Linked DNA regions of Homo sapiens. The protein of the gene in region 1 purifies or fractionates together with the protein of each later gene. This does not show direct contact. Each region holds a gene or a part of one and is shown on either strand. Other genes may lie near its edges.

Region 1 (3,269 bases):
CGGGCAGCAGCGCACGGCCTAGTCTGGTAGGTCCCCTCCATCCCGGCCGACTGGCCTCCTGCGGTGCAAACGCAAGATCTTGACTTTCAAGAGGCTTTGTGGACTACGCAACTTGAGGCAGGAGAAGAGGAGGGTGGAGATGGGGTGAGGGAGAAGGACCGAGAGAAGAGCTCATCCCCAAGATGTGTGTCAACAAGCACTGCATGTTTATTTTGGCCAACAGGCTAAAGAACCACGGAGAAAGCAAAAGGGCCGCTGGAAATAACACTGATACACTCAACTGTAGTGCAATTCGCTGTAGGAGGCAGTTTATTTCAGAAAAGATAAAAACCCAAAGGCAAGAGATTGTTGTTGGGTTTTTTTCCCTCTCACCCTCCCTCCTTCCTCCTCCTCCTGCTGCTTCTGCTGGATTGTGAAATCCCCAGTTGTGAGGAAGTGAAAATATAATTTCAAACGGAATTAGTTAGCTCCAGGAGGGCAGGGAGTCTGCTTGGAGTGGCCACACATTACAAGGCTTAGGCTCTGAAGAAAATCTGAAGGAAGGGGAGAGGTGAGGGAAAGAAAGAAAGAAAAATGATTCTCTTAGAATACCCAAGAGCATTTCAGCAGGTTCTGCCTATTTGAATTTTTTCAAGACAATAGGAAATGTATTGTGGCTGAAATAATTTTATTCTTTTTCTTAAATTTAAGAACTGGGCTTCCCCACCCCCCACCACCCGAGCTTTGACTGTGGAAGAGTCACTCTTGTGCACCCCATAGCACTGGCTCTGGCTCTGGGGTGCTGATTTTCCCCAGCAGGTCAGAAGCCAGAGGCAGGCTTCTTTTTCTTAGCTCCTTGGTCCCCAAATTGCTGTCTCTGTTTCTTTCTGACCTCCATTACACAACTCTTCTCCCCAGTACACACACACACACACACACACACACACACACACACACACACACACACGAGGAGCCCAGCCGTTTTCCACCAGCTGTGGATGTTATTTTTAAAAGGGAAGCTGGAACTTGTGTGAATGCGTTGGGTCCCCCAGGGGATCGTATATATCTGTATAGATTCTCTGCCCCATCTCTATCCCCTTCCTTAATTTTGCACACATTTAATTCCATTGTTTTCTGAGCCCCCAGGAGAATTTGTTTATCCTTAACAGGGGCAAGGTCCTTATCAGCTCTTGCGTACAAACACACCAAAGAAATGCTGTCTTACTGAAAGCCCAACAATGCCCCCACCCTACTGTGATTAACAGTTTAAAACCCCTTTCCCTTTCTGCTTCCCATGTTTCCTTTTTTGAAAAAAGTATTGCTTTGGGTAGTGGCAGTAGAGGAGAGGGCCAACTTAGAGCAGGAATTCTTAACACTGGCACACCAAACCCTTGACATTGTAAGCAATATCTTGGGCATATGTGTATTTTTCTGGGCTAGGAGTCCATAACTTTAATCAGATTCTCATGGGGGTCCTGGCATAAAAAAATTACATGGATTTAGAGTAGAGAGAGAGTATGTTGGGGGTCGGGTGCAGGAATCTGCCTTTCCAACAGTCACTCAGGTCATTTTAGTCCTGGGGCCTGAGGGTTGCATTTTGAAAACGGTCTTAGTGGGTTCCCTAGGCCAGGATTCCTGGCTTCTTGTGTTCCCCTGGGCTGCCCCTTGGCTCCTGCGCCTACCACAGTGTCTGGTCCTTGGTAGAGTCGCCAAGTAAGCGTTGCTTTTTCACTCAGGGAGGTGGCTTGAGGGTGCACGCGAGTCGGATAGGAGCAAACCTGGGTCTCATCTCGGTGTCTCTTCTTGTCTCCCGGTGTGGCGCGGCGCAGGTGAAGGTGTGGTTCCAGAACCGGCGGATGAAGTGGCGGCACTCCAAGGAGGCCCAGGCCCAAAAGGACAAGGACAAGGAGGCTGGCGAGAAGCCATCAGGTGGAGCCCCGGCTGCGGATGGCGAGCAGGACGAGAGGAGCCCCAGCCGTTCTGAAGGCGAGGCTGAGAGCGAGAGCAGCGACTCCGAGTCCCTGGACATGGCCCCCAGCGACACGGAGCGGACTGAGGGGAGTGAGCGTTCTCTGCACCAAACAACAGTTATTAAGGCCCCGGTCACTGGCGCCCTCATTACCGCCAGCAGTGCTGGGAGTGGTGGGAGCAGCGGCGGCGGCGGCAATAGTTTCAGCTTCAGCAGCGCCAGCAGTCTTAGTAGCAGCAGCACCAGTGCGGGTTGCGCCAGCAGCCTTGGCGGCGGCGGCGCCTCGGAGCTTCTCCCTGCAACACAGCCCACAGCCAGCAGCGCTCCCAAAAGCCCCGAGCCAGCCCAAGGCGCGCTTGGCTGCTTATAGACTGTACTAGGGCGGAGGGGATCCGGGCCTTGCGTGCAGCCTCCCAACCATGGGCTGGGTTTTGTGCTTACTGTATGTTGGCGACTTGGTAGGGCAGGAGACGCAGCGTGGAGCCTACCTCCCGACATTCACGCTTCGCCCCACGCTGCTCCGACTGGCTGCAGCGGACACTGCCCAAAGCAGAGGGGAGTCTCAGTGTCCTGCTAGCCAGCCGAACACTTCTCTCCGGAAGCAGGCTGGTTCGACTGTGAGGTGTTTGACTAAACTGTTTCTCTGACTCGCCCCAGAGGTCGTGGCTCAAAGGCACTTAGGACGCCTTAAATTTGTAAATAAAATGTTTACTACGGTTTGTAAAGGCCGCTTGGCTTTGCTGGGGGTTGTTAAGGCCAGAGATCTACAACCGGACCTTAGTCCCGGGGACACTGTAGAATGCAGCAGCTGAAGGTGGTGGGGCTGGAGTTTCAGGGGAAGTGGCTCAACCTCAGAGCCATCTTGTTACAGACATCAGAGATGGGCGTCTGGGTTTAGAGGCTTCTAATTAAGAGATTTCTAGCGCCAACTGCCACTGAAAGTGCCCTCTGAGACCCTGAGTAGCCTGAGAGTGGAGCAGGCCATAGAAACTGTTAGGCCAGTGCAACAGATGGTTTCCCCATTCACAGTATGGACGAAATGAGTTCCTAGAGTACTCAGAGTTGGAATGGGGAAGGCAGTGATGCCAGGCGGGGTCAATCTAGGCACAGCTGTAATCACTATGTGGACGCGAAGCGCGGGCCCAGAGCCCTGCACAAACTTTTCCTTGTTCCGGGATGGGGTAGAGGACAGGTTTGCAATGTTGCTGAGGAAAGGACAGACATGACACAGTGGTTAGAGCTGGAAGCTTGGGTCTTAGAGTGCCAGGGCCCTGGTTGTAAACATGCCAAACAAAGAGGTGACTTCTTCAAGGTGAAGCAG
Region 2 (3,652 bases), on another chromosome or scaffold:
GGACAAAAGCAGGTGGGGAAGATGATCTGGGGGTCTCAGTAGCCCCACAGCTTCCTATGAATCAGCTCTTTTGTGTTCCCCTACATCTTTAGAGAGTTACAGGGGAAGCCTGTGGATGTGTCTGGGGGACAAGAAAGATGGACACCACAGCAGATGGGAGTCCTGTCCTGTCCTGCCTCTGGAAGTGGGCACCTCACAAGGAGAGGAAGGGATGCTGTATTCCTAGAGCTTCCATCCCCCTCCTGCCAGAACCGAACAGCACCTGGGAGCTGAAGTCATGCTGCTGCAGCTGGCGGCCCTCCCGCAGGTCCCAGCAGCGCACCGTGTTGTCCAGGCCCCCTGTCCAGAGCCGAGTGCCGTAATCGGAAATATCAATGCAGCTGGCGCCGTCCGTGTGGCCCTGGAACTGCCTGGAGGGAGAAGGGCCCAGGCGTCCATCCTGGAATTCGAGCTGCCCCAGCATCGTCCCAGGTCACACTCCTCCACTCCCCCTGCACCGAGAGCGGCCGGGGGCTTGCCCAAGGTCCCAGCGCACCTGCCACCCACCTGACCATAGTCTGATTCTGCAGGTCCCAGACCACAATGTTGCCATCGCTGCAGCAGGAGAAGCAAACCTTGGCGTCGGGGCTGACGGCCAGGGCGTAGCAGGCTGGGGCTGAGGAAGTCAGCTCGGCCTTGATACGGGGGGTGGGCGCCGCCAGGTCCCAAATGGACAAGGTGCTGGCCTCACCGCCCACGATCAGACTCCGGCCATCCGGCAGCAACTTGCAGGAACGAATGTAGTTGTCTCGGTTCTGGGGTCGGGGAGAGAAGCAGGGGCTGGGGGTTGGTCCCAGGTGAGGTCTCTAGGAGCCTAGCTCAACGTGGGGGTCTCTGGAGCCCAATGTAGCCTCATCCTGATTAGCCTGCAAGCCCTACCCTGATTGGCTGGTGAGCCCCGCCCCTTTGACCTGCAAACACTGCCCCATCTGACTATAAGCTCCATCCTTTACCTATAAGCCCCACCCATGGTTGGCCTGCAAACCCTGTCCTGATTGTCTTGCAAGTCCAATTCAGATTGGCCAGAGCCCCACCCCTTTGGCCTGCAAGCCTTGTCCCATGCGACTACGAGCTCCGCCCCTCACCTATAAGCCCCGCCCTTCACCTGTAGCCCCACCCACGGCCAGCCTGCGAACACCGCCCCATTGGAACATAAGCCCCACCCCTCACCTGTGAGTCCCGCCCACTGTCCCACCCCGCCCTCACCAGGCAGTCGAGCTGGGCCACGGGCGTCTTGGCCCCAGGCTGGCCCACGTCCCACACCTTCACACAGCCCTTGCCGCCCGTGTACACATGCTGTGTGGAGCCGCTGATGGTGACCGCGCAGACCACCTCGCCATGGGCCAGCGTGTGCAGCTGCCGGGCGTGCCGCGGGATGCCCGCGCCTACCAGTGCATCCGAGGGGAAGGGAACCGGCTGCATCTGCCCGTCCGCAGACACGTGGAAGGAGTAGGCCCTGGAGAGAAAGCCGGGGCATGACCCAGCCCTGGGCACCACGCCCCCGCACCCGCACCTGGGAGGGCAGGGAGACGCCTTTGTCCTGCCTGGCACCCTCTGATGTGTTTTTTATTTTTTGTTTTGTTTTTTGAGAGGGAGTCTCGCCGTGTCGCCCAGGCTGGAGTGCAGTGGCCCGATCTCAGCTCACTGCAACCTCTGCCTCCTGGGTTCAAGCGATTCTCTTGCCTCAACCTCCCGAGTAGCTGGGATTACAGGCATGCGCCACCATGCCTGGCTAAGTTTTTTGTATTTTTAATAGAGACAGGGTTTCACCATGTTGGCCAGGCTGGTTTTGAACTCCTAACCTCAAGTGATCTGCCCGCCTCGGCCTCCCGAAGTGCTAGAATTACAGGCGTGAGCCACCATGCCCAGCCTGATGCGTTTGTTTCTTTTTTGAGATGGAGTCTCGCTCTGTCACCCAGGCTGGAGGGCAGTAGCGTGATCTGGACTCACTGCAAACTCTGCTTCCGGGGTTCAAGTGATTCTCCTGCCTCAGCCTCCCAAGGAGCTGGGATTACAGGTGCAGGCCACCACGCCTGGCTAATTTTTTTGTATTTTTAGTAGAGATGGGCTTTCACCATGTTGCTCAGGCTGGTCTCAAACTCCTGACTTCAAATGATCCTCCCACCTCGGCCTCCCAAAATGCTGGGATTACAGGCATGAGCCACCGGGCCCAGCCTCTGATGCATTTTTTAAAGTAATTTTCTCTGTTATTATTTTGTAGAGATGAGGTCTTGCTATGTTGCCCAGGCTGGCCTCAAACTCCTGGTTTCAAGTGATCCTCCCGCCTTGGCCTCCCAAAGCACTGGGATTACAGGAGTGAGCCATGGTGCTCGGCCTCTGATTTAGGAAAAAGGCAGGACAATGTGGTCAAAGGTGATATGGGACAGTCAGTGGGTGGCACAAATACACAGGGAGTCTAGGTTGTGGTGTGGCGCATGGTAAACAAGCACTTAATAAATGTTCGTTCAACCGAGGACCCACAAAGAAACCTTGAGTGTTCCAGACCAGCTAGAGGGTCTGTCCTAGGAGCCCCGGCCACCTGTGACCAGTTAAAACACTTAAATGAACTGAAATTAAATAAACATTTTCAGGCCGGCACAGTGGCTCACACCTGGAATCCCAGCACTTCGAGAGGCCAAGGTGGGTGGATCATTTGAGGTCAGGAGTTCAAAACCAGCCTGGCCAACATGGTGAAACCCTGTCTCTACTAAAAATACAAAAATTAGCCGGCGGTGGTCCGTGCCTGTAATCCCAGCTACTCAGGAGGCTGGAGCAGGAGAATCGCTTGAACCCAGGAGGTGGAGGTTGCAGTGAGCTCAGATCTCACCACCGTACTCCAGCCTGGGGGACAGAGCGAAACTCAGTCTCAGAAAACAAAACAAAACAAAACAAAACTTTTCAGCTCCTCAGTTGCACTGACCACATTTCAAGTACTGAAAGCCACGCCCAGCTGGTGGCGACTGGGTTGGCCAGCAGTGGGTCTAGAACACTTCCATCACTGCAGAAAGCTCTGTGGACACTGTGGCCAGATCTCCTCTGGTGGAGCCATCCTGGACAATGCAGGATGCTAAGCAGCATCCCTGGCCTCCACACTCCAGGCCAGGAACGTCTCCTCCCCCAGCTGTGACAACCACACGTGTCCCCCGACATCGCCCAGTGTCCCCTGGGGGGTCAGAGTCTACTTCTATGGAGAGCCAGTGGAACTCTGAGTAGCTTATGCAAGAGACTTTTTTTCTTTTTTCTTTTTTTTTTTTTGAGACTGAGTCTCGCTCTATTGCCCAGGCTGGAGTGCAATGGCACGGTCTCAGCTCACTGCAACCTCCACCTCCCAGGTTCAAGTGATTCTCCTGCCTCAGCCTCCCGAGTAGCTGGGATTACAGGTGCCCGCCACCACGTCCGGCTAATTTTTGTATTTTTAGCAGAGACATGGTTTTGCCATGTTGGCCAGGCTGGTCTTAAATTCCTGACCTAAAGTGATCCACCTGCCTCAGCCTTCCAAAGTGCTGGGATTACAGGAGTGAACCACTGTGCCCGGCCCACACAAGAGACTTTCTAGAAGGGAAGCAGGGAGACCCCAACCACAGAGGGTAAGACCTCAGAGGAGGTGGGGGGC
Region 3 (3,652 bases), on another chromosome or scaffold:
GCATATTTGCCATTATAAGAATTTGTTATTAATGCACATAAAACTAGGGAAGATAGCAGACATTGACAAAAAAGAAGTTCTTCCATGGCTCTTCCTTGTGGGGTTGAAAAAAAGTGAAACAAATGCTTGCTTTTATCATCAACACATATTTGATGGGCAGCTTTAAAACTAGTGGAGAAATGTTCCTAAATTTCATAACTACTGCAGGTGATAACAAACTAGAGACAGAGTACACACATAACTTTTTTTGTGATTAAATAAATGTACAAGATCCTGTAATTTTCATTAACATAGCAGTCTAAAAAATACACTAAAAACTGATCTGTCCAGACAACAATAAAAATGCCATGCAACTACATTTATACTAATGAAGGAGTATAGTATAATTATTTATTATACTAATAAATAATACTGATATTAATTTCATTGCTTCCTTTTGGAAGCATTATAATGTAGTCATTAAGAACATGGATTTTTTTTTGCTTGCCTTTAACAAGTAAATTACTTAACCATTCCTAGGCTATTTACTTAACAATTCCTAGGCTATTTATCTTTAAACAAAGGGGGGATTTTATTTTTTTATTATTTATTTTAAACAACTACAATTATCTTTATTTTCTTATTACTTTTTATTTCAATAGGTTTTTTGGGGAACAGGTAGTGTTTTGGTTACATGGGTAAGTTCTTTACCAGTGATTTCTGAGATTCAAGATGTAAAGTACTTTAAAAAGTTTCCTAGAACTAGGTAATAGCTAAAAATTGGTAGCCATTGTTACAATTTTTCTTTTTCCTACCACATGGAAGTGTTCTTAAAATCTGAAATGAAAAGGTAAATTGCAGAACAACCTGGAGAATACAACACAGAATCTAACAGTATCCGGTAGATAACCAAGCTACAGTAGCATTTATTTAATTAATTTTGCTTTGTCTCCTTCTCAAAATGACATTTTATTATTTGAATATAAAAAAGTGATAATAGGGTTAACATAAAATCAGAAAAACTGTTAGAAGATGCCTTTCCATATACCAATGATTTGATTATGATGTAAGCTTAATTAGCGTGTTTTTCATTTGCAATGTGATGTACAGTGAAAACACCTCAAAAACTTAGATACATGCTTTATAACTAAAGTCAGATCCATACTGCAGTTATAATTTAATTAGGTTATGGCAAAATCATGATTAAGCAGAATTTCATGTCTCTCTTTTTTCATCACTGATTTTTATTTTTATAATTAAAAGTAACATATCTGCTGAAAACATTACTAATTAAATAAATGGAAACCATATATTTAATATGTCCAAGTTAAAGCCCCCAGATTACCTTAACTGTGTCATAAGCTCCAAAATAAGAGGCTCGGTACACAATGATGCCCTGTACTGAAACACCAAACCCTTGGTATAAACCAGCAATTCCATCTGATTTTGCTATTTTCATAATACAGTCACCTAAACCCTTGAATTGTCGCTCCTCAGGACCTAAAATAAAGCCATTTAAAATCTATTAGCAACATTATATATCCAATAAACACTTTAATCAAAATAAACCTTTACAGATCTAAATGATCTGAAATTCCCACTTACAAATCTAACAAAGAAGGCACAAATCAAAATCCTCCCATTCTTTTACAGATAATCAAGATTTCAAGTACTATCTCAAAAGAAATAAATGGAAAATATTAATCTCTCATGAAAACAATTTACTTCAAACAACCTGCCTTAAAGTATTTTATTAAAGTTACCAGAAGTTACTAATTGAGGTTCAGAAAATAATTTGAAACAGGCCAGGTGAGATGGTTCATGCCTGTAATTCCAGTGCTTTGCGAGGCCAAGGCAGAAGGACTGCTTGAGGCCAGGAGTTCGAGACCAGCCTGGGCAACACAGTGAGACCCTGCCACTACAAAAAATAAAAAAAATTAGCCAGGAGGCTGAGGCAGGTAGATCACTTGAGACTAGGAGTTGGAGGTTTCACTGAGCTATGATTGTGCCACCGTACTCCAGCCTAGGCAACAGAGTAAGACCCTGTCTCTATTAAAACAAAACAAAACAAAACAAAGAAACACTTAGAAAGGAAAAATTGGCAGGGCACAGTGCCTCATGCCTGTAATCCCAGCACTTTGGGAGGCTGAGGTGGGTGGATCACGAGGTCAGGAGTTCAAGACCAGCCTGGGCAAGATAGTGAAACCCTGTCTCGATTAAAAATACAAAAATTAGCCAGGCGTCGTGGTGGTCGCCTGTAATCCCAGCTACCCAGGAGGCTGAGGCAGGAGAACTGCTTGAACCTGGGAGGTGGAGGCTGCAGTGAGCTGAGATCATGCCACTGTACTCCAGCCTGGGTGACAGAGAAAGACTGTCTCAAAACAAAAACAAAAACAAAAAACAAAAAAAAAAACAAATAAAAAAACTCCAGGACTGTTGAAAAGCAAAAAGATAAAGCTAAAAACTAGTAAGGATAGTTTAAGATAGTTAACATTTCATATGAAGGGGTCATATTTTTCCAGTATTTTCTGGTTTTATTTTTCTTTTCCCTTGACCAAGAATTCCTTGACAATATTTTAAAACTATTATATATGTACAATGTAATCTTCCAAAAATAAACTAAATCTTCCTGATTTGAAAGAGAAAACAAAACTATGGAACTTAAAGCAAGATAATATTGAGTTATTTTTACCCTCTTATTAATAAAAATAAACTTTCAACTTCCAGTTAAATAGATGAAACTCACATTTTTATTTTTGCTCAAACTGCCACCCCTTCTGAGACATTTTCTGATCACTTATTTAAAACTGCTATCACTCTCTTCTAACTTTTTTCCCTAGCATTTATCATTAAGTGACAATATATTTTAGTCATTTATTCATTTATTATTACTTGTGTCCTCCACTAGACTCTTAGGTACATGAGGCATGAGCTCTATGTCTTACATGGGGGGTGGGGTGTGAATATGTGTGCATATATATACGCATATACACACTCACACACGCCCTGTATCTGCAGGCACCCTGTATTCCAGAAGGCACTCAATATTTGTTGAATGAATCTCTGTACCCTAAAGAAACTCTGTTACATTAATAATAATGAAATAAAACAGGTTTAAAGCCAGATAGGCCAATAAGAGAACATGACAGAATGAAATCTACAAAATTTTGCCAGATGGAGAGAATAGGGAGGAGTGGTAATTCACCAAATAGAGCAGAAAAAGCTGAACCTATTTTCTTACAGAGGAAGATACTGCTGGGAAGCAAGCCATTTGATCACAATAACCTCAGAAAGACTTAGAAATTAGAGGAACTAACTACTACTTCCAGGATGAAAGCAAAGGAGCAGGGAGATGCTCAATATCCACAACCTCACCCTGAGCAGCCAAATGACTTACTGTGCTGCCACCCACAGAACTGAACACAAGGCTCCAGATTTAACGGGGCCAGTTGTGTGACCGCTGCAATCACTCAAACACTGAAAAAAGACTCACATAAAGATATTTTATTGTGAAATATAAGATCATCAGGGATAGAAAGAAACTAAAAAGAAAAAACATATACTAAAGGATCCGGAGTAAGCAAATTGGTATCTTAAGAGCAACATTAGAAACTAGAAGTCAGGGTAATATTTTCGTAATTGTGAAGGAAAATAATTTTAAACTCAGACTTTC

Evidence for each region.
Region 2: the proteins of HLX (region 1) and TLE2 purify together in Homo sapiens (affinity purification with mass spectrometry; 2 studies listed by BioGRID and IntAct, with this or other methods). This does not show direct contact.
Region 3: the proteins of HLX (region 1) and SLC25A31 purify together in Homo sapiens (affinity purification with mass spectrometry; one large-scale study listed by BioGRID and IntAct). This does not show direct contact.

The regions. Positions count from the first base shown.
Region 1 is NC_000001.11:220,882,387-220,885,655, forward strand, and holds the end of HLX (H2.0-like homeobox protein), read left to right. Parts: intron 1-1,808; coding exon 1,809-2,318; 3' UTR 2,319-2,673; downstream 2,674-3,269. UniProt on the Homo sapiens protein: Transcription factor required for TBX21/T-bet-dependent maturation of Th1 cells as well as maintenance of Th1-specific gene expression. Involved in embryogenesis and hematopoiesis.
Region 2 is NC_000019.10:3,005,175-3,008,826, forward strand, and holds part of TLE2 (transducin-like enhancer protein 2), read right to left. Parts: intron 1,496-3,652; coding exon 1,246-1,495; intron 795-1,245; coding exon 547-794; intron 411-546; coding exon 263-410; intron 1-262.
Region 3 is NC_000004.12:127,764,893-127,768,544, reverse strand, and holds part of SLC25A31 (ADP/ATP translocase 4), read right to left. Parts: intron 1,480-3,652; coding exon 1,325-1,479; intron 1-1,324. UniProt on the Homo sapiens protein: ADP:ATP antiporter that mediates import of ADP into the mitochondrial matrix for ATP synthesis, and export of ATP out to fuel the cell.